Homo sapiens: one gene and its partners. The protein of the gene in region 1 purifies or fractionates together with the protein of each later gene. This does not show direct contact. Each region holds a gene or a part of one and is shown in the gene's direction. Other genes may lie near its edges. The genes, in order: CEP152, IGF2BP2, LNPEP, PPFIBP1, WDR62, NIN and CPSF6.

The links.
Region 2: the proteins of CEP152 (region 1) and IGF2BP2 purify together in Homo sapiens (co-immunoprecipitation; one large-scale study listed by IntAct). This does not show direct contact.
Region 3: the proteins of CEP152 (region 1) and LNPEP purify together in Homo sapiens (co-immunoprecipitation; one large-scale study listed by IntAct). This does not show direct contact.
Region 4: the proteins of CEP152 (region 1) and PPFIBP1 purify together in Homo sapiens (co-immunoprecipitation; one large-scale study listed by IntAct). This does not show direct contact.
Region 5: the proteins of CEP152 (region 1) and WDR62 purify together in Homo sapiens (co-immunoprecipitation; one large-scale study listed by IntAct). This does not show direct contact.
Region 6: the proteins of CEP152 (region 1) and NIN purify together in Homo sapiens (co-immunoprecipitation; one large-scale study listed by IntAct). This does not show direct contact.
Region 7: the proteins of CEP152 (region 1) and CPSF6 purify together in Homo sapiens (co-immunoprecipitation; one large-scale study listed by IntAct). This does not show direct contact.

The regions. Positions count from the first base shown.
Region 1 is NC_000015.10:48,769,570-48,773,069, reverse strand, and holds part of CEP152 (centrosomal protein of 152 kDa), read left to right. Parts: intron 1-378; coding exon 379-583; intron 584-1,780; exon of another isoform or gene 1,781-1,850; intron 1,851-2,897; exon of another isoform or gene 2,898-3,500. UniProt on the Homo sapiens protein: Necessary for centrosome duplication; the function also seems to involve CEP63, CDK5RAP2 and WDR62 through a stepwise assembled complex at the centrosome that recruits CDK2 required for centriole duplication.
Region 2 is NC_000003.12:185,647,043-185,650,542, reverse strand, and holds part of IGF2BP2 (insulin-like growth factor 2 mRNA-binding protein 2), read left to right. Parts: intron 1-1,008; coding exon 1,009-1,140; intron 1,141-3,404; coding exon 3,405-3,500.
Region 3 is NC_000005.10:96,977,580-96,981,079, forward strand, and holds part of LNPEP (leucyl-cystinyl aminopeptidase), read left to right. Parts: intron 1-1,558; coding exon 1,559-2,399; intron 2,400-3,500. UniProt on the Homo sapiens protein: Release of an N-terminal amino acid, cleaves before cysteine, leucine as well as other amino acids. Degrades peptide hormones such as oxytocin, vasopressin and angiotensin III, and plays a role in maintaining homeostasis during pregnancy.
Region 4 is NC_000012.12:27,684,706-27,688,205, forward strand, and holds part of PPFIBP1 (liprin-beta-1), read left to right. Parts: intron 1-2,679; coding exon 2,680-2,802; intron 2,803-3,500. UniProt on the Homo sapiens protein: May regulate the disassembly of focal adhesions. Did not bind receptor-like tyrosine phosphatases type 2A.
Region 5 is NC_000019.10:36,085,897-36,089,396, forward strand, and holds part of WDR62 (WD repeat-containing protein 62), read left to right. Parts: intron 1-790; coding exon 791-916; intron 917-3,141; coding exon 3,142-3,209; intron 3,210-3,288; coding exon 3,289-3,410; intron 3,411-3,500. UniProt on the Homo sapiens protein: Required for cerebral cortical development. Plays a role in neuronal proliferation and migration.
Region 6 is NC_000014.9:50,754,663-50,758,162, reverse strand, and holds part of NIN (ninein), read left to right. Parts: coding exon 1-1,671; intron 1,672-3,295; coding exon 3,296-3,421; intron 3,422-3,500. UniProt on the Homo sapiens protein: Centrosomal protein required in the positioning and anchorage of the microtubule minus-end in epithelial cells. May also act as a centrosome maturation factor.
Region 7 is NC_000012.12:69,242,569-69,246,068, forward strand, and holds part of CPSF6 (cleavage and polyadenylation specificity factor subunit 6), read left to right. Parts: intron 1-3,500. UniProt on the Homo sapiens protein: Component of the cleavage factor Im (CFIm) complex that functions as an activator of the pre-mRNA 3'-end cleavage and polyadenylation processing required for the maturation of pre-mRNA into functional mRNAs.

The DNA.
Region 1 (3,500 bases):
CTAGTGTTTAGTATTCTTTTCTTCCTTAATATTTATGTTGTTTCTGTTAGAGTCATAAAGGGCATGTATATACAGCATGCAGTTTTCCAATAACACAAATGTAAATTATGTCAAAGTTCACATTTCTAAGCTACTTACAGTGAGCAGCAGGACTAAGCTTGAGAAGGCTCTTCCTGTGAATAAACGTATTTCTGTATATAGAGACATGGCAAAGGTGATAATCCTTGTGTATGACAACATTTAAAATTGTTTTGAAATACTAGTATATAATTGTATAGGTGACAAAACATGTTCACCACTGTGGTCAGTGCTTTTAGGGAATAACCATGTCTGATTTATTACTTGATTTAATGTTAAAAATCACAATTTCTCCATTAGCATTGTACAAGAAGAAGACCCAAATGAAGAGCTTTCAAAAGATGAGTTCATTCTGAAGTTAAAGGCAGAAGTACAGCGTTTGCTGGGTAGCAACTCAATGAAGCGTCATCTGGTGTCTCAGTTACAAAATGACCTCAAAGACTGTCATAAGAAAATTGAAGATCTCCACCAAGTGAAGAAGGATGAAAAAAGCATTGAGGTTGAGGTATGTAAAGCCTATAGAGTTAAAAAACCATTTTTAAAAGGCTCAATAAAGAAAACTTTTACACTTTTTTTTTTTTGAGACAGGGCGTCACTCTGTCTTCCAGGCTGGAGGGCAGTGGTGGAAACATGGCTCCCTGTAGCCTCAACCTCCCAGGCTAAAGCGATGCTCCCACCTCAGCCTCCTGAGTAGCTGGGACCACAGGCGCACGCCACTATGCCTGGCTAATTTTTAAATTTTTTGTAGAGACAGGTTCCCACAATGTTGCCCAGGCTGGTCTCAAACTCCTGGGCTCAAGCAATCCTCCCACCTCAATCTCTCAAGGTGTTGGATTACAGGTGTGACTAACCACATCCAGCCCTTTTACATGTTTTTAAATTAATAAACCTTTGGCTTTCAGGAGTTTATTTGACATTTTTAGAAATAAAGTTTAAAGAAGGAAATGCCATTTTTAAAGGGATACTGACAGTCCCTGACTTAGGATGGTTTGACTTACAATTTTTAGACTTTACAGTGGTGGAAAAGTTATGTGCATTCAGTAGAAACCATATTTCAAGTACCTGTAAAACAGTTCTGTTTTTTACTTTCAGTACAGTGTTCAATAAATTTCATGAGATATTCAACAGTTTATTATAAATGAAGCTTTGCATTAGATGACTTTGCATAACTGTTGGCTATTATAAGTGTTCTGAGCACATTTAAGGTAGGCCAGGCTAAGCTATGGTTTTAATAGGTTAGATGCATTAAATGCATTTTTGACTTAATGATATTTTCAACTTATAATGATTTTATTAGGTGATAAACCCATTGTAAGTTGAAAAGCATCTGTATGTTTTTTCTGGTTACTCTTGGCACCTAGTAAATGAGATACCAATTAGGTAAAATTCCTTTACCATAAATACAAGGAAGTATTCTCTGTAACAAGGAATCTGCATTTCTTTAAGATTGGCTTTTACCAATAGTGCTCTAAAATCTAGTTAAAATAAATCCTCCATAGAAATCCTGTAGTATTTTCTATGAGATTTTCCTGGCCCATGTTCTTACAACAAAAGTCATTCTATATGAGGACATTAATTATATAGTGATGATGGTACAGATATTATATAGTGGTCGTGGTACTATGGGAAAGTACACAAAATCTGGTTTTGTCAGTCATTGAAATCCACCTCTGTATTCTTCAGTTCGGAAAATGAAGCTGGAGCACTTTGTGACACTTTTGAATTTACAGAGCCAATTTCAGACAAATTGAAACTAAACACATGACTAATAAGTAAGTCAAAGATATTTCTGTAAGATCATGCTATCACAGAGATCTTTAGGGCTGCTCTCCTTTATAGATCCTTTTTTTTACCCTTCCATATTTCACAAATCATCAGCCATCTATACTCCCAATAGAAAATAATATATAAAACACCTAATAACTAAGAAAAGCAAAAGAAGAGGGAAAAGGAATGTGGGTAGTATACTCCTTTTCCTCCTGGGTGGAGATAATTGTTTACTTCCTTCTTTAGTACTGTTTTATCTCCTATTTAAACTAGGAGTTGTGTTCATTAGAACAGTTCTGCTAAAGTATGTATAATATTCTGTGCTAATTATTGTGGAATTTTGATTGTGGTTAATTTTTATATTTTGGAAAAACAGTGTTTTTGCTATCAAAATCTTTTCCAGCCTGATTCCCTCTTCTGAGTAACTACATTTGATGACTAAAACATAGATTTTAATATTAACAGCAAATGAGAGAGACTCCTCCCCGCCCTGCCCCCTGCACATTTAACATCTTTAAATCAAGCTGTTTTCATTGTTGCCCTACATTTCTTTAAAAGGATGGGAATGAAAGCTTGTTTCTCAATTTGCATTAAGACATTAGAGTTTATTAGTTTAAGCATTTTGGTGGGAGTGCTCTAGGATTTAGGATACTAGAAACCTGATTTTGAGTCTGAACCTTAGCTCAGATATCTTGGTGCTTTCTTTGTTCTGTATTAAACTTGCTAATGGCATTTGCTATACAGATACACTTTATCATGTGTAGCAGTAGATAGTGGTCATGCATTGTACTGTTTTTTAGCCTTCCCATTTTCCTCTGTAGTCTGGTTGATCAATAGATCAAAGGAATAACTATCTCATCTTTGAGTATTCTTTTTGTCCAGCTACTCTATTGCCATAGTGAATTCTCGGTAGTGTACATCTAAACTCCAATTTTTCTCAAAGTTACTTCAGCTGTGGACTCAAGTGATCTGCCCACCTCCACCTCCCAAAGTGCTCGGATTACAAGGATGAGCCACTGTGTTGTGGCAAAGAGCTCAGAGTCCAGGTACACAACAAGTGAAACGGAGTAGATATATTTTTAAAATCTTTGTAACCCCCATCAATGAATAAAAAGAAAAGTAGATAAGGAAAACTCTCAGAGGAAAATATGCAAAGTTAAATGAACAGATAAATCTGGGAAGGTGGAAAAACAAATGAACAATGAAGGTATATAAGAGGTTCCACTTTGGTGGTGACACAAGAAATACAAATGAAAGCAATTGTTAGATATTCTTTTCCCATCAAAGATAATTATTTAAAGATAATCACTGCCATTGGAGGCAAAGAGAGATGGGCAGACCCATGTACTACCTGACAGTATACATTTGGATGACATTTCTGGAAGGCAATTCGCCAAAGTCTATCATGAGTCTTAAAAATTGTATGTATTGAATAAAATATATGTCCGTGAGTGAATGCTGACATAAATGAATACATACAGAAATAGAATAAATGCTTGATCTTAGTAGGAGAACATATGATGAGAAATAGGATATTTGTATTGTCTCAAAGTATCCTATAAGATACTTATCATTTATTATAAAACAAAAAATAGTAAGTTTACAATGGAGATGACAGATCCCACCTTCAATTGATTATTACCAGTGGTGAGACA
Region 2 (3,500 bases), on another chromosome or scaffold:
CCCACACCTGGCTAATTTTTGTATTTTTAGTAGAGATGGGTTTTCACCATGATGACCAGGCTGATCTTGAACTCCTGGCCTCAAACAATCTGTCCACCTCGACCTTCCAAAGTGCTGGGATTAGAGGTGTGAGCCACCACGCCTGGACTGAAGTGTATACTTTAAAACGGTGACTCTCAGATTATGTAAGTTATATCTCAGTATTTTAAGTAAAGAAAAAAAAAGAACATTGTAAGCTGTGGTTCTTTTTCACTAAAAAAAAAAAAGAAAGATAGGTTCTTGGCTCCTCTGCCTTTGGAGTTAGACATCAAAAAGAAAGATTATGTTGAATGTAGTGGCTTACACCAGTAATCCCAGCATTTTGGGAGGCCAAGGTGGGAGGATCACTTGAGGCCGTGAGTTCAAGACCAACCTGGGCAACATAGACCTCATCTCTAAAAAAAAAAAAAAAAAAGAATGAAAACATGAGCTATGATCGTGCCACTGCACTCCAACCTGGGCACAGAGCAAGACCCTGTTCTCCATTAGAAATTTTTTTAATTAAAACAATATCAGGCTCCTCAAATCCCATTACCACCACCATCACCTCCATCCTTACTAACCAGGGGTATGACCCTGTGGTGATGGGATAAGAATCCCCTGAACAAATTCAGTCAATCAAGCAAATCTTTATAGGTGATAATATGGAAATAAGACATAGAGTTGCATCCCCTCACCCATCCCCTTAGCCCTGACACACAGAAAGCTCCCTAGAGGAGGCAGTCTTGTGCAAACCACCAAAACATGAATGCCCATCCACATTTTTCAAAGTGCAGCCATCTGACGTGGCGGGAGCAGCGCCCCCCAGGTCTGTGAGCGGAGGCTGGGGCACGCAGCTTCCTGTGTGTCCCAGGGAGTGTGGGAATGGGACTGACCCATTGTCTGGACTCTCCAGTGCCCTTCGCAGCACTGATGAAGTGGCCGGCTGCTGGCTGACTGAGAGTCATTAGTCATGTCTTGCTCTCTCAGGCCCAGGGACGGATCTTTGGGAAACTGAAAGAGGAAAACTTCTTTAACCCCAAAGAAGAAGTGAAGCTGGAAGCGCATATCAGAGTGCCCTCTTCCACAGCTGGCCGGGTGATTGGCAAAGGTGGCAAGACCGTAAGTGTGCTCCGGGCTCGCTTCATCACCTGGGTCAGATTCCCCGCTCTGGCCTTGCCTGAGTTCCCTCAGTCTCCCCTTGGCGCCTTCTGTCCCAATGTACAGTCAGGGTCTTTGGCAGATAAACTAAGGCTCTCCTGGCATCTGAGCCCTTTGAGGCATGAGGATCCCAAGGACAAAAATGTCATCGGCTTCACTCCACAACTTAGGGCCCCCAATCCGTGGTGCTGTAAGCCCAGCACCAAAAATACCACAGTCCTGTGCCCAGTAATACCCATCTTGACTCCATGGTCAGTGAAGGCCTCCACTCCCTGAAAACAGAGAGGCTGTCTTCTGCCCCCTTTATACCCACATGTAGCAGCCATTAAAATTGGAAAGGGGGGATTCCCACCGAGAGAGATGCTAACCCACTTGGCAGACCACCACCTTCCCTGGATTTCACTCAGGCCTGTGCCCTGCACTCTCTTCTGACTCTCAGCCCTCCTGACAGATGCCTCCAGTCCCTAACTCCCCCTCCACAGGCTCTATCTTCTGGCTGTTTCCCAAACATGGCTCTAGGGGAGCTAGTTTAGCAGTAGGAGGGTGGGCAAGGAGGAGATTGTTTTTTGAAAGATCATCTGCATTTTCTACTGGAAGGTGCAGGAACAAACACAGTGTAGTTTGAAAAGTGCCAGAGCGTTAACTTTGAAGCTTGTTGGAATGAGCCAGGTGGTCTGTAGACCCAGGTATGTTCTGGAATGTGACTTACTGACCTGGGTGGGGAGATGACCACTGAGAAGTTCCAGTAGAGCCTAGTGCAGGCTTGCTGGCAAAGTAGCAGTGTTGGGTGGCAGGAACTTGGCGGGGAGGCGGGGGTCTCTTGAGTCCTGAGTGTGTATGTGTATATATGTATATGTGTGTTATTTGCTGTTTTTGTAAAGCTTTTTTTTTTTTTTTTTTGAGACAGAGTTTCGCTCTTGTCACCCAGGCTGGAGTGCAGTGGTGCCATCTGTGCTCACTGCAACCTCCACCTCCCTGGTTCAGGTGATTCTCCTTCCTCGGCCTCCTGAGTAGCTGGGACTGCAGGCGCCCGCCACCATGCCCAGCTAATTTTTTATATTTTTAGTATAGACGGGGTTTCACCATTTTGGTCAGGTCAGGCTGGTCTCGAACTCCCGACCTCAGGTGATCCGCCCGCCTCGGCCTCCCAAAGTGCTGGGATTACAGGCGTGAGCCACCACACCCAGCTGTTGTAAAGCTCTTTACATAGAAACTCTTAAACGGAATTCAAAACCAAGTTCTAGATGTAATGAGTCAGCTTTATACGAAAGAACGAAGCGGTGTGGAATCAAAGGATTCCCCGTCTCCAGAATGCAGTCGGCGCTCCAGGGCACACACTGCGCTTTAGGCGGAGCTGGAATGTAGGAGGCAAAAGAAAGCAGATGGATCAGCAGGGAGTAGAATCCTGAGCCCCTGGGTGTCCTGTTTAGCTATTTCAGAACCAGTCACTGAATTCTCTGCATCCTCCAGACTTTCAGGTTTCCCCTAAAGCACATGCTGAACCCGCCTGTGAGCTCGGCATCAGGCCAGAGGGCCAGAGGACGGGGTCTGAGCCCTCAGGAAGCGTGCAGTCCTGTTGGGAAGCAGGCCCAGTGAGGCAGCGGGGAGGATGAACAATGCAGGCAGTGGTTGGAGACACGAGGAGCTCAGCATGGGCTGGAGGCTTCATGGAGGTGGGCCTGGGGTGGGATCCAGTGGCCGGGAGAGAGGACAACAATCCAAGGGTAGGAACAGCATGAGCAAGTCTTGGCGGCAGGAGTGAAAACGAGGAGGAGGGAACAGCAGGGCTGATTCGCAGGGAAAGTTAACCAAGAGGAGGTTTGGGCTCGTGGTCAGCACCCAGGACAGCATGTCCAGGAGGAATGATCTTACAGGGTAGGGGTGGGGAGTGGGGGGGTATGGGAAAGCCTGGGGTCTCTGTGAGCATGTGCAGGCCTGCGTTGATGGGAACTCCAGAATAAGAGAACTTCGCCTCAGAAGCAGCCCCAGGAATCTGTGGCTGGACTCCCTCTCCCTGTCATTGAGCCTGTCAGGGCCCAACCAACATGGCCCCATGTGCTCAGGGGCAGAGGAGCCCCCGGGGTGTCCTTGATAAAAGGAAAGGAGAGCAGAGTCCAGCCCCCCTCCTTCCCCTGCTCCACCTCTTGGCCCCTCACTCCGTCCTGAGCCCACCACGTTGACGGGGAGGGAACCTATCCAACCCGTTGCCGTTTCTCCCTTCACAGGTGAACGAACTGCAGAACTTAACCAGTGCAGAAGTCATCGTGCCTCGTGACCAAACGCCAGATGAAAATGAGGAAGTGATCGTCAGAATTATCGGG
Region 3 (3,500 bases), on another chromosome or scaffold:
GTTTCTAACAAGCTGCAATGTGATGCAAATGCTGCAGGGTCACAGGCCACACTGAACAGCAAAACTGCAAATTTTATCCTAATATTTATCAATAATATGTTTTATGGATGAAGAGTTTCCACCATTACAGTGTTTGTTGAATAGCACAAAATACATAGCATTTATCTTAAGCTAGATATTCAGTAGTTTTTTGTAAGCTTTGCTCTCCTGATGGTGAAATAATACTCTTAGCAACTTCATTGCCAGGTATGAAATAAATAATTCAGGGCTCTCATCTTTTATTGAATTAGTTTGAGTAGAGGGATGCAATATAATGAAAAGAGCATAAACTTTTGAATCAAATTTTTAGACCTGTGCTTTAATATCAGTTTTATGACTAAATAGCTGTGTGACTTTATGAAGACGAATTAATCTATTTCTCTTTTTCTATTTTCTCATGTCTAAAATAGAATACTTGCCATTTTATAGGATTGTTGTAAGGGTTAGAAATGATAGGTATAAAGTATCTTCCCTTGTAGGGAAGATTAGTGGAGGTTTCAATTTGATAACTTTTGAGATCCCTTAAAAACTAAAATTGTATGAATTTTAAATAAAAAACATTGAACGATCTAATCCTAGGAAGTACTGATATATGGGGGATTATCGACCCTTCTACTTCTAGAGTCTTTTTTCTCAGTGATTTTGGCAAATCGGAAGGTGTGGTTTGTTGTAGTTTGTAAAAGCTCCCACTGAGATCCACTAACACTCATGGTGTGCAGTATGGTTGTTTCCCATGGAAATATGTTGTACTTCTGAAAGCCATGGAAGCATGAAAAACAGATTGAATTATAATTTTATCTGACTTTTATTGTCTTTTGATCTTTTTAAAAATCATTTCTTGCTTATGGAAATTTCCCATATAATTTGCTGCTTCCCATTTGCTGTGGGACAGAAACATTCCTCTTTCAGGGGAAAACAATAACCCATCCTGTTGCTTAGCCATACTCAATCTTAGAAATGGGCATACCAGCTTGTGGTGCTCCCTAGAGAGAATGAGACTCAGGGATGAGACCCACAAATACCTTGGAAGCAGATTTGAGGCCTGTTGGACAGAAATTCTGGGATTGCAGTGCCCAAACCCTAGAAGGGGAACCGTGGACTGTAGGTGGGCACATCCCTTTGATCCTACTGACTCCTCGCCTGGTGGGGACAGACATAGTCAGAGGAATGCCAAAACAGTGCCCTCTCAAGCCCAGGGCAGGGTCCCAGGTTGTGGGGCAGGAGTATATTAAGGAAATTAGTATATTATCTCAGCTAACTTTTTAAAAATATAATAGCCTGTTTATTTAGCTTTCTTGTTTCATAACTGTGGTATACTTTTATTTATGTTTTAGTTTTTAATGGATGACTCAATGGTATAAACATCTTATTTAATTCAGTAGCTCTGAGATGGAAATAAGTCTTAGTGACTTAAAAAAATTCTTAGTTTAAATGTGGTCTAGGTAGAAGACATGTTATTAATATTATGAGCTTTTTTTTTTCTAACTCTGTGCCTTGTTCTTATGTTTTGGTTTTTTAGATCGGCTTCAGCTCCCCAGGAATATGATTGAAAACAGCATGTTTGAGGAAGAACCAGATGTGGTGGATTTAGCCAAAGAGCCTTGTTTACATCCTCTAGAGCCTGATGAGGTGGAATATGAGCCCCGGGGTTCCCGACTGCTGGTGCGGGGTCTTGGTGAGCATGAGATGGAGGAGGATGAAGAGGATTATGAGTCATCAGCAAAGCTGCTGGGCATGTCCTTCATGAATAGAAGCTCAGGCCTTCGGAACAGTGCAACTGGTTACAGGCAGAGCCCAGATGGGGCTTGTTCAGTACCCTCTGCAAGGACCATGGTGGTCTGTGCTTTTGTCATCGTGGTTGCTGTTTCTGTAATCATGGTGATTTACTTACTGCCCAGATGTACCTTTACCAAAGAAGGCTGCCATAAAAAAAACCAGTCAATTGGACTAATTCAGCCATTTGCAACAAATGGGAAATTGTTTCCATGGGCACAGATCAGGCTTCCCACTGCCGTTGTGCCACTACGCTATGAACTCAGCCTACACCCGAACCTAACCTCGATGACATTCAGGGGTTCTGTGACAATTTCAGTTCAGGCTCTTCAGGTCACATGGAATATCATTCTTCATAGCACAGGTCATAATATTTCAAGAGTGACCTTTATGTCAGCAGTTTCAAGCCAAGAAAAACAAGCTGAGATCCTGGAATATGCATATCATGGACAGATCGCCATTGTTGCCCCCGAAGCCCTTCTAGCAGGGCACAATTATACGTTGAAGATAGAGTACTCGGCAAATATATCTAGTTCTTATTATGGGTTTTATGGCTTCTCCTACACAGATGAAAGTAATGAGAAAAAGTAGGTAGCCCTCTTAAATGATTCTGGTTTTACGCTCTGATAACTTCTGCAATATAGATCCCTTTGTCCACACCAGAGACACGAATTGTGATTTTTTTTTTTAATTTAGGAAGTTATATACAAAATAGTAGAATGGTGATTTAGAACAATATATTATCTCTCTTAGTCAACGCCTTGAGCATATATCATGGTGGGGTGGAGATAGGGGTGTGCTGGTGGAAAAGGATGGATAAAGATTATATCCAAAACTTGTTATCTTGAGTTTTTCACATTTTTAAGGTGAATCTAGTTTTCTGTCACCTCATGAAGTCTGTTGGGAAGCAGAGTAAAGAGGAGTTATTCTTTAAGACCTATTTTCCTAATGTGCAGAACTTTTAGGAGGTACTTAGTGAAATACAGAAAGAGGGCATGAAGAAGTGTGAAGTGTGGTGTGCTTACATATATCATTTTTAATATCCTTAATCTTTACTGGTTTATTATTTTTTAAAATGCCAGTCTATTTTGGATTTCTGGTGTAAATTTTTTTTAAGGTCTAGGAGAGACTTAATTTGGTTCAGAAAAAAAGGTGAGACAAAATATAAAATTATTCAGCTCCCTATTTGGACTATATATTTAGTACTTTAATCTTAGCATTCATAGCATGTAGTTTGAAATTCTGGGAAGATGGAGTTCACACAGTATGGAGGTTATTCTTAAGTAGCAGTGATATCAGTTGTCTTGTGCACAAAATCCTCACGACATCTGCTTTATGCAATTGGAACATTCTCTCATATTACTCTGTAAAACAATATGTGAATTACTGATGCTGACCATTTGGCTAATGTATGTTGACATATTAAGAGAAATAGTTAGAAATGAGTATTCTACATCTAAAGGAAACTTTTTGATCCTTCTTAAATGGAGAAAGAGACCAAGCAAGATCCATAATTCTATTCAGATAAATAATTTTTATTTTATTTTCCCTCTATGTAATACTTTTAAAATAAATGGCATACTGGCCCTGCATTTCAATTCTTGCGTGAGATCTGGGATTGAACACAAATGTATAATTGCAATGGGAACTTGAAAGTTCTTGCCTTTAGTTCTCCTTCTATAATGCCT
Region 4 (3,500 bases), on another chromosome or scaffold:
TGGATTCTCAATAACCCTTTTAGTTAATATTACTAATATTATTATAGTGTGTATAATATATATTAAAAAGTTTTTAAAACTTTTTATTTTAAGATAATTTTAGATTTACAGAGGAGTTGCCAAAGCTAGAATTCTGTATACCTTTCACTCAGCTTCCTCTAACGTTAACATCTTACGTAATCATGATTACATTCATCAAAATTAAGAAATTAACGTAGATGTTAATACAATCAACTAAACTGAAGACTATTCACATTTCACCAGTTTTTCCAGTAAGGTCCTCCTTCTGTTCCAGGATCTAATCTAGGACACTACATTAAAACACACATTTTGTGACTTACGACTTCTGGGGTCAAATTTTCCAGGGTCATTTACTCTTTTATAGCCATTTCACATACGCTGCTTGTGATTTTAAGCTTGAATTTGTTCACATATATACTATATAATTATGTAATACTGTATATACATAGTATTATACACACATATGTAATACTGTAGATACATAGAGTATGTATATATATATATACACACACATACACATATATGCATGTTTGTATATATGTGTGTGTGTATCCATATACACACACACACACACTCTGTGTATCTATAGTATTATAATACTATTATTATCCCTACTTTTTTACATGTATAAAGGAAGGAATCGAGAGGTTGGGTAACTTGGTAACCAAGTTTCCACAGTTAGCAATAGAAAGTCATAGAGAGTTTGAACTCAGGCTGTTTCAAGATCCCTGCTTTTAATAGCTCACGATTATGACTAGAACACATTCAGTAAATATTTGCCTCCCTCTCTAAGTGTGAGTATGTTCCCCCTGAGAATGTGAACAAATTCAAGCTTAAAATCACAAGAAGCATCTGTGAAATGGCTATAAAAGAGTAAATGACCCTGGAAAATTTGACCCCAGAAATCCTAAGTCACAAAATATGTGTTTTAATGTGGATTAGATCCTGGAACAGAAGAAGGACCTTACTGGACAAACTGGTGAAATGTGAATAAAGTCTGCAATTTAGTCAATTGTACATTAATTTCTTAGTCTTGATGAATGTAATCATGATTATGTCAGATGTTAACATTAGAGGAGGCTGAGTGAAAGGTATACAGAATTCTATTCTATCTTTGGCAACTCCTCCACAAATTTAAAATTATTTTAAAATAAAAAGTTTTAAAAAAATTGGGAAGAAAATCACTCAGAAAGTCTGTTTTGATATAAAATAAAACTTTCTTTTTAAAATCCTTCGAAGTATAAAGAATTTCAAAAATAATTAACATTTTAATCACACTGTAAACATTGTGCATTCAGATATTTTTTTAAGCTGACAGACTAGTTAGATGAAAAGAGTCCAGACTGAAATGTTTGGAATGGGTGTCTCAATCCTAGATTAAAATAAGTACTCTTTCTAACATGTCTTAAGACACTACTTTTAAGGAATTACTCCAGAAAAACTTCAGGAAATAATTTTTGCCTGGTTAGTAGCCTCAAGGATTTAAACTGATTAATATTTTTATTAAATATTTCTGTAGTAGATTACATTTTTTTCTTTCTTTCATGAGAAGTGTTTTATCAGAAAGGTGTGTCTAAAATGGATGCTTTCCTTGTTTATTTTCTGGGTGTGTTTGGAAGTAGACTGTTGCTTATCTTCATACTGCTCCCAATATCACCTTCTTCTGAAATAATTTGTTTTGGTGTGTTTGGTATATTTGAAAATATTCCCAAGAGCCACAGACTGGTGAAAATTCTTCCTTGAAGGGGTTGATTGGTAATATATATATGTGATACTTATAACTTCATTTTTCTTCTCTCCTTGACTCTGACCAAAACCTTTGCACTGATTGATTATAGTTGTGCCAAAATTGTTCACAATGTCTGCTAGATAAACCATAATAATCTAGAGCTATTCAATAGCAGACAGGTCCTTACTAAAAAATAATTTAGAACTAGAGAATTATTAAGGTCAGGGAATAGTATAATAAGAGCACTGTTCTGATTTTCCCCAAAATTATGATGTGCCTTAGTTCAGAAAACCCAGCCTTGCTAGGAGCGGTGCCTCACGCCTGTAATCCCAGCTTTTTGGGCGGCTGAGGCCGGGGGACTGCTTGAGCCTAGGAGTTTGAGATAGCCTGGGCAGTATAGTGAGATCCTATCTCTCCAAAAAAAAAAAAGATGAAAAAAGAAAGCCAACTCTTGATCATGTTCACCAATGAGCATCATTCGCTCTTCACTATCTGCTGAAAGGAAACAGAGAGGGCAGTTTATCCAAAGCCTAAGTACTTTATCCACCGATAAAGTTCTCAAAACTAAAGAGGAAACAAATAAATTCCCTGTTTGTAGTATGTGCAGATCAAGTCAAAGCAGATCACCTTTTGTAGTGACCCAGCAAGTGCTTTTCTAACTGTGTTTTTCAGAGCCCTGGGGTTCTACAGATCTCAGAGCATCTGGAAGAGAGAGAAACAGGTGGAAGTCAGCTTCATTGGCAAAAAATACTAATCTGGGGTTTGGGGGAAGATTTTGTTCCAAATGGGAAAGTGGGTTCTGACAAGACCTTGGGGCATATTGGTTTGAGGGGCTCTTCTCCTTTTACTCCAGTTTTCTGAGATTCCCTAAGAAAGTCCTCCTGCTACAGGCCAGCACAGTGAGCTCCTCCTTTTGTTCTTTTTTGCAGGATGACTTACTGTCTCTGAAGGTTGTAAGTGTGCTACACCATCTCAGTATCAAAAGGGCCATCCAGGTCCTGAGGATCAATAACTTTGAACCAAACTGTCTACGGAGGCGGCCATCTGATGAGGTAGTGTTTTAAGATTGAGGTTTATAAGCATGCACTTCCCAGGCATGGGACTGTCCATGTGTCGAAACTAAGAGCCATTTTTCTTGGAGCCTGCAGGAAAAGCCTTAAAATCCAGCCTCATTTACTTCTTAGGCTTTTTCTGTATTCCTTCCTTTTCTCTCCATGACGGTTCCCCTTGTGTAACTAAAGCCAAGGGTTCTTTTTCAGTTATGCTTCTTCCTTTTCTTGGGTGTATTTTTTTTTCCTGACTCTAATCAACAGAGATAAATATCACTATAAAGACTTCCTTTTCTGGCCAAGTATAGTGGCCAATGCCTATAATCCCAGCACTTTGGGAGGCCAAGGCAGAAGAATCACTTGAGCCCAGGAGATCAAGACCAGCCTGGGCAACATAGGAAGACCCTGTCTCTACAAAAATAATAATAAATTAGCCAGGCATGGTGGGTGCACGCTGGTGGTCCCAGCTACTCAGGAGGCTGAGGTAGGAGGATCCGTCTGAGCCTGGGAGATGGAGGCTGCAGTGAGCCCTGATTATACCACTGCAACGCCAGCGTGGGTAAGAGAATTAGACCCTGTCTTAAAAAAAAAAAAGACTTCCTTTCCTAAAGCAATGCTTTATTAGTATATAAGAAAGCTTGAAACTCAAACTATGACAGAAATTCTTTAAAAGAGAATTTTTCCCTTTCTTTTTGCATTTA
Region 5 (3,500 bases), on another chromosome or scaffold:
GGTCTCAAACTCCTGACGTCAGGTGATCCACCCGCCTTGGCCTCCCAAAATGCTGGGATTACAAGCGTGAACCACCATGCCCGGCTCCTCAAGATGTTTTCTAGGCTGGGCACGGTGGCTCATGCCTGTAATCCCAGCACTTTGGGAGTTACAGAGTTGGTGGAGTTATATCCTGATGTGATTTTCCCCATGTTCTTCTTTCGTTCTCTCATCCCCCATGCTGTGTGCCCCACCAACTTGTCTTGAAACATATCTTCACTCGGTTCGCCTCTCCTGATCTCCCCTCTGCCTCAGGTCATGTTATTAGGCCTCAGACATAGCAAGTGACCAGAGTAGGGAAGGCTGGTGGCAGATGGGAGTCTGGCCACAGGCAGTCAATAGGACCTGAACAAGGCCCAGGTAGCCAGACCTCAGAGGGTGAGAGGACACTGGTTTTGGAAGAGGCTGAGAGGTTGCCAGGGCTTTACCCAGCACAGACCCAGCAGGCAAGAGCGCTGGGCTCTGCTGGGGCGTCTGCTGTGGATGTCCCTGGAGGAGCGTCCATGCGCCCATCGAGACTCATCCTCCCTGAGCTGGTGGTGAGGAGGTGAAATGCCAGGGTGTGGGGGCTCTGGGAAAGACCACACAGAGCTAAGGGAGTGGCCCTTGCCAGGCTTGGGCCAAGTTGGCTACAGTTGAAGAACCAAAGACCCCTTCTCCGAGGACTGGGCAGCTTGGTCACACTGCCCTTCTGGGAGGCCAGGGCACCCACGCAGCCTTCAGGAACCAGTCTCATTCTCTCCTCTCACAGGGCTGACCTTGCTGGCCTCAGCCAGTCGGGACCGGCTGATCCATGTGCTGAACGTGGAGAAGAACTACAACCTGGAGCAGACGCTGGATGACCACTCCTCCTCCATCACCGCCATCAAGTTCGCTGGTGAGCCCCTTTCTTCCCGCTCCCTGCGCCTTGCTAGCTACCCTGCTAAAAAAGGATTCATTCTTTCAACTCTCCTGTAAAATATATATCCAAACAAGTGAATACAGTATCTGTGTACAGTATACAGAATAATGACTGGGGCCGGGTGTAATGGCTCACACCTGTAATCCCAACACTTTGGGAGGCCAAGGAGGGTGGATCACCTGAGGTCAGGAGTTCGGGACCTTCCTAGACAACATGGTGAAACCCCGTCTCTACTAAAAATACAAAAATTTGCTGGGCGGGGTGTTGTTTCTGTAATCCCAGCTACTCAGGAGGCCGAGGTGGGAGAATTGCTTGAACCTGGGAGGTGGAGGCTGCACTCCAGCCTAGGCAACAGAGTGAGACCCTGTCTCAAAAAAAAAAGAATAATGGCCAGGTACCATGGCTCACACCTGTAATCTCAGCACTTTGGGAGGCCAAGGCAGGTAGATCATGAGGTCAGGAGTTCGAGACCAGTCTGGCCAACATAGTGAAACCCCATCTCTACTAAAAATACAAAAAAATTAGCCAGGCATGGTGGTGTGCACCTGTAATCCCAGCTACTCGGGAGGCTGAGGCAGGAGAATTGTGTGAACCCGGGAGGCGGAGGTTGCAGTGAGCCAAGATTGCGCCAGTGACTCCACTCCAGCTTGGGTGACAATGCGAGACTTTGTCTCAAAAAAAAAAAAAAGAAGAATATAGGCCGGGCGTGGTGGCTCATGCTTGTCATCCCAGCACTTTGGGAGGCTGAGGCAGGCAGATCACCTGAAGCTAGGAGTTTAAGACCAGCCTGGCCAACATAGTGAAACCCCGTCTCTACTAAAAATTCAAAAAAAGTAACCGGGCATGGTGGTGCACACCTGTAATCCCAGCTACTTGGGAGGCTGAGGCAGGAGAATAGCTTGAATCCAGGAGGCCAAGGTTGCAGTGAGCCAAAATTGTTTCACTGCACTCCAGTCTGGGTAACAAGAGCAAAACTCCATCTCAAAAAAAATAAAAATAAAAAATAAGCTGGGCGTGGTGGCCGAAGTGAGTATCCACAGTTCTTAGGAGCAAGGTTTGAACTAGGACGTTGTTGATAGCAGAGACTGTTCTAATTGCTCATGGTCGTAATATTGTTAAATACGGTACTTGGATTCACCACGTGCAGGTTAAGAAGCAGAACATTACCAGAGGCTTGCAGGCCTTCTCTGGGTCCCTCCCAGGTTACCCTTCCTCCCTTATATGGGGCTCACTCCCTTCTGTGAGCCAATGACTCCTCCTTGAGCAACATCTAATACTTGTATGTCAGGCCTGGACCCTCTCAAATGTCCTGTCATGAAGGAGCATGTGTGATGTGCCCAGACTCAGAGTTTTATATTTGTTCTGTCATTTCATCCTCACCAAACTGTTATTCTGTAAAGAAATGAGACGGCCGGGGGCATCTCACGCCATTGCACTCCAGCCTGGGCAACAAGAGCGAAACTCTGTCTCAAAAAAAAAGAAATGAGAATAATAAAAGCAAGAATGTTTCTAATGCTTACCATGTGGCAGTCCCTGTTCCAAGGGCTTCACATCACTCTCCAGAGAAGGAACTGTCACCATGCCCATTGTACGGACCGGAAGTTGAGGCTCAAAGGGGAGGCCCAGGTTCAGAGCAGTGTTTAACAGCTTTGACCTTGGCACCAGAGAATGCCTGGGTTCAGTCCTGCCCCTGTCCTCTCTGTGTGCCTTGGGACAAGGACTCTGTGAACCTCTGTGTTCATGCTTGTCCAGTGGGATGGGTGGTGAGCATTCAGGAAGACCCGCTACATGCATGGGGCCTGGCCCAAGGCTCATGTGGATCTTGCAGTTGATCCTGATGGCACGAGCCTCCCAGCCTGTCTCCACTGGTCGCTGCTGCAGTCCTGCCTCTACTCCGCTACTCAAGTCACCTATCTCAATCCCAGACTGGAGAGGGTGTCCCTTCTTTGTCCCCAGCCTTTGTTTCTCTATATGCCCTTGCTCTGCAGAGCCTGCCTTGGCCACAGCTCCACCTGTGCCCCCTCACACGTACAGCTCATACCTTACAGAGTCCCACCCAGACCCAGCACCCACCTCACCACCTTTAGGAAGCCTTGATCCCAGCACAGTTGATTGATGGCTCTTGCAGTGGAGTTCCCCAGCTAGGGTCCCCTGCCCATGTGGCCCAGCCCTGCCTAACACACAGCGTCCTCCTCCCCTAGGCAACAGAGACATCCAGATGATCAGCTGTGGGGCTGACAAGAGCATCTACTTTCGCAGTGCCCAGCAGGTAGGGTGGCATGGCCTCCTTGGGGGCTGGGGTGGGGGGTTGTCGGGGCATTCTCTGAAGGTCCTGCCGGCCCTGCCAGGGTTCGGATGGACTACACTTTGTCCGTACCCACCACGTAGCAGAGAAAACCACCTTGTATGACATGGACATTGACATCACCCAGAAGTACGTGGCCGTGGCCTGCCAGGACCGCAATGTGAGGTAAGGGGTGGCCCTGGACCCTTAGCTGGCCTGGTCTGCCTTGTCCTAGGCTGTCTGCTTTCCTCCCTCTGTTCCTCTGGTCCCCAAGAA
Region 6 (3,500 bases), on another chromosome or scaffold:
CCAGGCAGGGGCTTCGGAGCAGCTGGCCAGCCAGCGGCTGGAAAGACTAGAAATGGAACATGACCAGGAAAGGCAGGAAATGATGTCCAAGCTTCTAGCCATGGAGAACATTCACAAAGCGACCTGTGAGACAGCAGATCGAGAAAGAGCCGAGATGAGCACAGAAATCTCCAGACTTCAGAGTAAAATAAAGGAAATGCAGCAGGCAACATCTCCTCTCTCAATGCTTCAGAGTGGTTGCCAGGTGATAGGAGAGGAGGAGGTGGAAGGAGATGGAGCCCTGTCCCTGCTTCAGCAAGGGGAGCAGCTGTTGGAAGAAAATGGGGACGTCCTCTTAAGCCTGCAGAGAGCTCATGAACAGGCAGTGAAGGAAAATGTGAAAATGGCTACTGAAATTTCTAGATTGCAACAGAGGCTACAAAAGTTAGAGCCAGGGTTAGTAATGTCTTCTTGTTTGGATGAGCCAGCTACTGAGTTTTTTGGAAATACTGCGGAACAAACAGAGCAGTTTTTACAGCAAAACCGAACGAAGCAAGTAGAAGGTGTGACCAGGCGGCATGTCCTAAGTGACCTGGAAGATGATGAGGTCCGGGACCTGGGAAGTACAGGGACGAGCTCTGTTCAGAGACAGGAAGTCAAAATAGAGGAGTCTGAAGCTTCAGTAGAGGGTTTTTCTGAGCTTGAAAACAGTGAAGAGACCAGGACTGAATCCTGGGAGCTGAAGAATCAGATTAGTCAGCTTCAGGAACAGCTAATGATGTTATGTGCGGACTGTGATCGAGCTTCTGAAAAGAAACAGGACCTACTTTTTGATGTTTCTGTGCTAAAAAAGAAACTGAAGATGCTTGAGAGAATCCCTGAGGCTTCTCCCAAATATAAGCTGTTGTATGAAGATGTGAGCCGAGAAAATGACTGCCTTCAGGAAGAGCTGAGAATGATGGAGACACGCTACGATGAGGCACTAGAAAATAACAAAGAACTCACTGCAGAGGTTTTCAGGTTGCAGGATGAGCTGAAGAAAATGGAGGAAGTCACTGAAACATTCCTCAGCCTGGAAAAGAGTTACGATGAGGTCAAAATAGAAAATGAGGGGCTGAATGTTCTGGTTTTGAGACTTCAAGGCAAGATTGAGAAGCTTCAGGAAAGCGTGGTCCAGCGGTGTGACTGCTGCTTATGGGAAGCCAGTTTAGAGAACCTGGAAATCGAACCTGATGGAAATATACTCCAGCTCAATCAGACACTGGAAGAGTGTGTGCCCAGGGTTAGGAGTGTACATCATGTCATAGAGGAATGTAAGCAAGAAAACCAGTACCTTGAGGGGAACACACAGCTCTTGGAAAAAGTAAAAGCACATGAAATTGCCTGGTTACATGGAACAATTCAGACACATCAAGAAAGGCCAAGAGTACAGAATCAAGTTATACTGGAGGAAAACACTACTCTCCTAGGCTTTCAAGACAAACATTTTCAGCATCAGGCCACCATAGCAGAGTTAGAACTGGAGAAAACAAAGTTACAGGAGCTGACTAGGAAGTTGAAGGAGAGAGTCACTATTTTAGTTAAGCAAAAAGATGTACTTTCTCACGGAGAAAAGGAGGAAGAGCTGAAGGCAATGATGCATGACTTGCAGATCACGTGCAGTGAGATGCAGCAAAAAGTTGAACTTCTGAGGTAATGTATGTACCTTCTAGACGTCACGAATCCCACAGAGCACCTCACCAGATCTAACTTCCACTGCTTGCCGTGCCTAGAGAAACTAACCTAGTAGTCTTCACGAAGAGAGCAGTACTCTCTAGACTTCCTTCTGCTTCTGTGCCGTATTAACAAATAAAATAACCTTGTTTAGGAGGCATTCCCTTCCGCTGTAGCAAACAAGTGTTCATATGGGGTGTGAAAGTTCACAATGGCGAGTGTTTGCTGTTTAACCATGTGCATCCTCAATGTACCTCTTTAACTTTTTTCTAGCACTTATTTCATTTAGATGGATAGGGGATTTTTTTTTTTTATTTTGCTAAGTGTTACTTTCCTCATTTTGAGGAAACATGTTATATACAAATGAATGATTTTTTGTGTATTATTAACTTAGTAGATAAGAACTCACTTCTTATGCTAATATAGAAAAAATGTTCTGTCTTTATAGTTTTGTACTCATATCACTTGAAGCACATGCTGATAACCCATAAACAGTGCAAATGGTCAGGCACCATGGCTTAAATGCCTGCAATCTCAACTGTTTGGGAGGCCAAGGCAAGAGGATTTCTTGAGGCCAGGAGTTTCCAGGCAAGCCTAGGGAACATAGCAAGACTGCCTCTACAGAAAAATAAAAAAATGTTTGCTGGGCGTGGTGGTGCACACCTGTGGTCCCAGCTACTTGGGAGGCCGAGGTGGGAGGGTTGCTTGAGCTTGAGAGGTCAAAGCTGCAGTGAGCCATGATCATGCCATTGTACTCCAGACTGGGTGACAGAGTGAGACCCTGTCTCTTTTAAAAAAAAAAAAAAAAAAAAAAAAAAAAAAGAGACAAAACAAACAGTGGAAATTTATCTTAGAACATATAATTTGAGGAGCCTCCAGATTCTAATAAATATGCTTGAAAAGCAGAGATACAAGTAGAATTAATTTGAACCACTGCCCACTTGACATTGTAAAATATAATTGCATAGTCTTCTAGCAAATTTGGTTTTTCAAAAAAAAAAAAAACTTGTAAACTATTACAGGACGTCTGAAATGTCTCTGAAATAATTTAATTCTGAATGTAGTTTTTCCTCTTCTTCAGACCATTTTTAGTCCTAAAAATCAGAATATAATGAGATGAATAAAATCACAAAGTAAACAGTGTACATATTTCATTGTGGCCCTTTGATTTCAATAGAGAATTTTCTTTCCCTAGGTACCCAGGGGCCTAAAACTAAGCTAATATAGCTTTGTAACATGGCTTATGTGTATTCAGAACAGGTAGGACTTGAGACTGAGATAAATGAAGACATTTGCTCAAAGCAGTATGCTTGCCATTGAGAAAAATCAACAACCAGAATGAGCATTGAGTCTTGATTCATTTCTCCAGGCTTAAGGGTTTTTTAGCTACACTTCTCTAACATCTTTTAGTGAAATTCTTACTTCCCAAAAGAAATGTGTCAATATGTCATAACTCGATTTCCAAATACTAAGAGACTACTAATTTAGACTTTTCTTTTTAACTGGCATTGAATACTCATCCTTTTGGAAGTTACTAGAAAATATTTTCCAAAGATGCCAGATGACTGCCTTGTAACAATTTTTTTCAATCTCTGTGCTTCAGATATGAATCTGAAAAGCTTCAACAGGAAAATTCTATTTTGAGAAATGAAATTACTACTTTAAATGAAGAAGATAGCATTTCTAACCTGAAATTAGGGACATTAAATGGATCTCAGGAAGAAATGTGGTAAGACGTATACTTACATTTTCCTAAGACATTTTTGCAAAGACTAAAATTCTTTTACTTCAGCTTTTAAAGCCTAACC
Region 7 (3,500 bases), on another chromosome or scaffold:
CTCCTTATGGGTTCTCTTTAGTTCTTAGAGGTCTTTGGATGTCACCAAGCTGAGAACAGCTGGAAGGGGAATTTGAACATCTTCCAAACCTCTCTATTACTTGAAGTTGAGAAGAAAGTGATTCTGTCTCACAGTAGCATATCAATTCAGTTTAAACTGCATTTATACTCAAGTGTAGTAATTACTAGCCCAATATTTAGTAATTGTAGATTTTAAAATTCTGGCCAAAACTAAATAATTTAAAAGTTGAATTGTTTAGCGCGAGTGTGGTGGCTCATGCCTGTAATCCCAGCACTTTGGGAGGCCAAGGTGGGCAGATCGCTTGAGGTCAGGAGTTGCAGACCAGCCTGGCCAACATGGTGAAACCCCATCTCTATCAAAATACAAAAATTGGCCGAGTATGGTGGTGCCTGCCTGTAATCCCAGCTAATCAGTAAGCTAAGCAGGAGAATCGCTTGAACCTGGGAGGCAGAGGTTGCAGTGAGCCAAGATCGGGCCACTGCACTCCAGCAAGACCCTGTCTCAAAAAAAAAAGATTGAATTGTTCAAAATACATTTGTTGAGTGTCTGTTATGTGCCAACAACGAGGGATACAAAGTTTAGGTAGTCTCTACCCTTAGAGTACACTGTAGGGGAGCTGAGAGATACCTACATACAGTAGTGCACACGTATCCACAGTTCCACTTTCTGTGGTTTCAGTTACCCGTGGTTCTGAGGTCTGAAAATATTACATACAATAAGGTAGTTTGAGAGATACTATATTTAGCTAACTTTTATGACAGTAAACTGTTCTACAATCATGTGTCGCTTCACGATGGCGGTATGTTCTGAGAAGTCCATCTTAGGTGCTTTTGTCATTTGTGATCATAGAGTGCTTTTGCATTTCAAACCTGGAAGGTACAGCCTACTACACATGTAGGCTATATGGTGTAGCCTGTTGCTCCTAGGCTACAAACTTGTACAACATATTACTGTACTGAATACTGTAGGCAGTTGTAACACAGTGGTATTTGTGTATCTAATATATCTAAACAGAAAAGGTAAGTGAAAATCTTGATATAAAAGATAAAAAGTGGCACACTTGTGTAGGGCACTCATGAAAGGAACCTGCATGATTGGAAGTTGCTCTGGGAGAGTCAGCAAGTGAGTGGTGGGTGAATGTGAAGATCTGGGACATGCTGCTGTAGACTTCATAAACACTGTACAGTACACTCAGGCTACACTAAATTTATTTAAACTTTTTTCTTCAATAATACATGAGCTTACTGTAATGTTTTCACTTGATTGATTATTTTCTCACTGTCATCCAGTCTGGAGTGCGGTGGTGCAGTTGTGGCTCACTGCAGCCTTTATCTCCCAGGCTCAAGCAGTCCTCCTGTCTTAGTCTCCAGAGCAGCTGAGACTACAGGCATGTGCCACCATGCCTGGCTAATTTCAAATTTTTTTTGTAGGGATGAGGTCCCAGCTAGTCTCCAGCTCCTGGGCTCAAGCTGTCTTCTTGCTTTGACCTACCAGTGTTGGGATTACAGGCGTGAGCCACTGTGACTGGCCCGTTTTTACTTTATAAATTTGGACTCTTCAATAATAACAGTTTAAAATACAAACACATTGTGTAACTATATAAAATATTTTCTTTATATCCTTATACTGTAAACTTACTTCTTTTTTTTGTTTTGTTTTGTTTTGAGATGGAGTCTCGCTTTGTCACCCAGGCTGAAGTGCAGTGGCGCGATCTTGGCTCACCGCAACCTCTGCCTCCTGGGTTCAAGCAGTTCTCCTGCCTCAGCTGGGATTACAGGCACTCACCACCATGCCTGCCTAATTATTGTATTTTTAGTAAGAGACGAGGTTTCACATGTTGGCCAGGCTGGTCTCGAACTCGTGACCTCAAGTGATCCTCTTGCCTTGGCTTCCCAAAGCGCTGGGATTACAGGCATGAGTCACCACACTGGGCCTAAACTTTTTTCTATTAAATTTTTTTTTTTAACTTTTAAAATTAATTTTATTTTAGAAGAGACAAGGTCTTACTGTGTTGCACAGGTCTCAAACTCCTGGCCTCATGTGATCCTCTTGCCTCAGCCTCCCAAAGGAGGCTGGAATTACAGGCATGAACGACTGAACCTGGTCTTTTTTTTTTTAAGCTTTTTTTAAAAACTAAGATATACACACATTAACCTAGGCCTGCACAGGGTCAGGATTATCAATATCACTGTCTTCCATCTCTGCATCTTGTCCCACTGGAAAGGTCTTCAGGGGCAGTATGATGCATGGGCTGTCATCTCCTAGGATAACTGCCTTCTTCTGTAATACGTGGTGAAGGACTGACTTGCCTGAGGCTGTTTTACAGTTAACTTTTTGAAGTAGGAAGAGTACACTCTAACATAATGATTAAAAGTATGGTATAGTTGGCCTTGGTGTGGTGGTTCACACCTGTAATCCCAGTGCTTTGAGAGCCTGAGGCGGCAGATTGCTTGAGGCCAGGAGTTCGAGACCAGCTTGGCCAACATGTCGAAACTCCGTCTCTATTTAAAAAAAAAAAAAAAAAAGTGTAAAAACAAAAAAGTATAGTATAATAAATACATAAACCAGTAACACAGTCGCTTATTGTCAAGTATTGTGTACTGTACATAATTGTATGTGCTATTCTTTTATATGACTGAGAGCACAGTAGGTTTGTTCACACCAGCATTACGAGCCCAAACGTGAGGAATGCATTGGGCTAAGATCGCTAAACAATAGTAATTTTTCAGCTCCATTATAATCTGACCACCTGGACCAAAACATTGTCATGCATGACTAAATTGTTCTCTTTTATTAGTTATTTTTTACAGTGCCTACTTTATAAATTAAACTTTATCGTAGGTATATATAAAGAAAAACATAGTATATTTAGGGTTCCTTGCTTTCCGTGGCTTTAGGCATCCACTGGGGGTCTTGGAACATATCCCTCTCAGATAAGAGGGGACTACTATAATTATAGCACACTGACAGGTCCTATATTGTAGTTACCATTCTTTTATGTTTTATGTGTAAAGTTTTGTTGATCTGGAGAGGAAAGTCAAAAAAATTCTGTGAACTTTAGGGAAACTTACACTGCTTGCATTGAAGTAGTATGTTTTGTTGCTTGTTTGGGAGTCAGAAACTCTTAATGTGGAATTTAGTTTCTGCTCTGTCAGGCCATCACCGATAGCACAAATTTAGTAATCTGACCACCCAGCTTTAAAATGGAAGTGTAGGCCAGGTGCGGTGGCTCATGCCTATAATTCCAGCAGTTTGGGAGGCTGAAGTAGGCGGATCACTTGAGGTCAGGAGTTTGAGACCTGCCTGGCCAACATGGCGAAACCCCTGTCTCTACTAAAAATACAAAATTTAGCCAGGTATGATAGTGCACACCTGTAATTCCAGCTACTTCAGAGGCTGAGGCAGGAGAATTGCTTGAACCTGGGGGGCAGAGGCTGCAGTGAGCTGAGATCAGGCCACTGTACTCCAGCCTGAGTGAC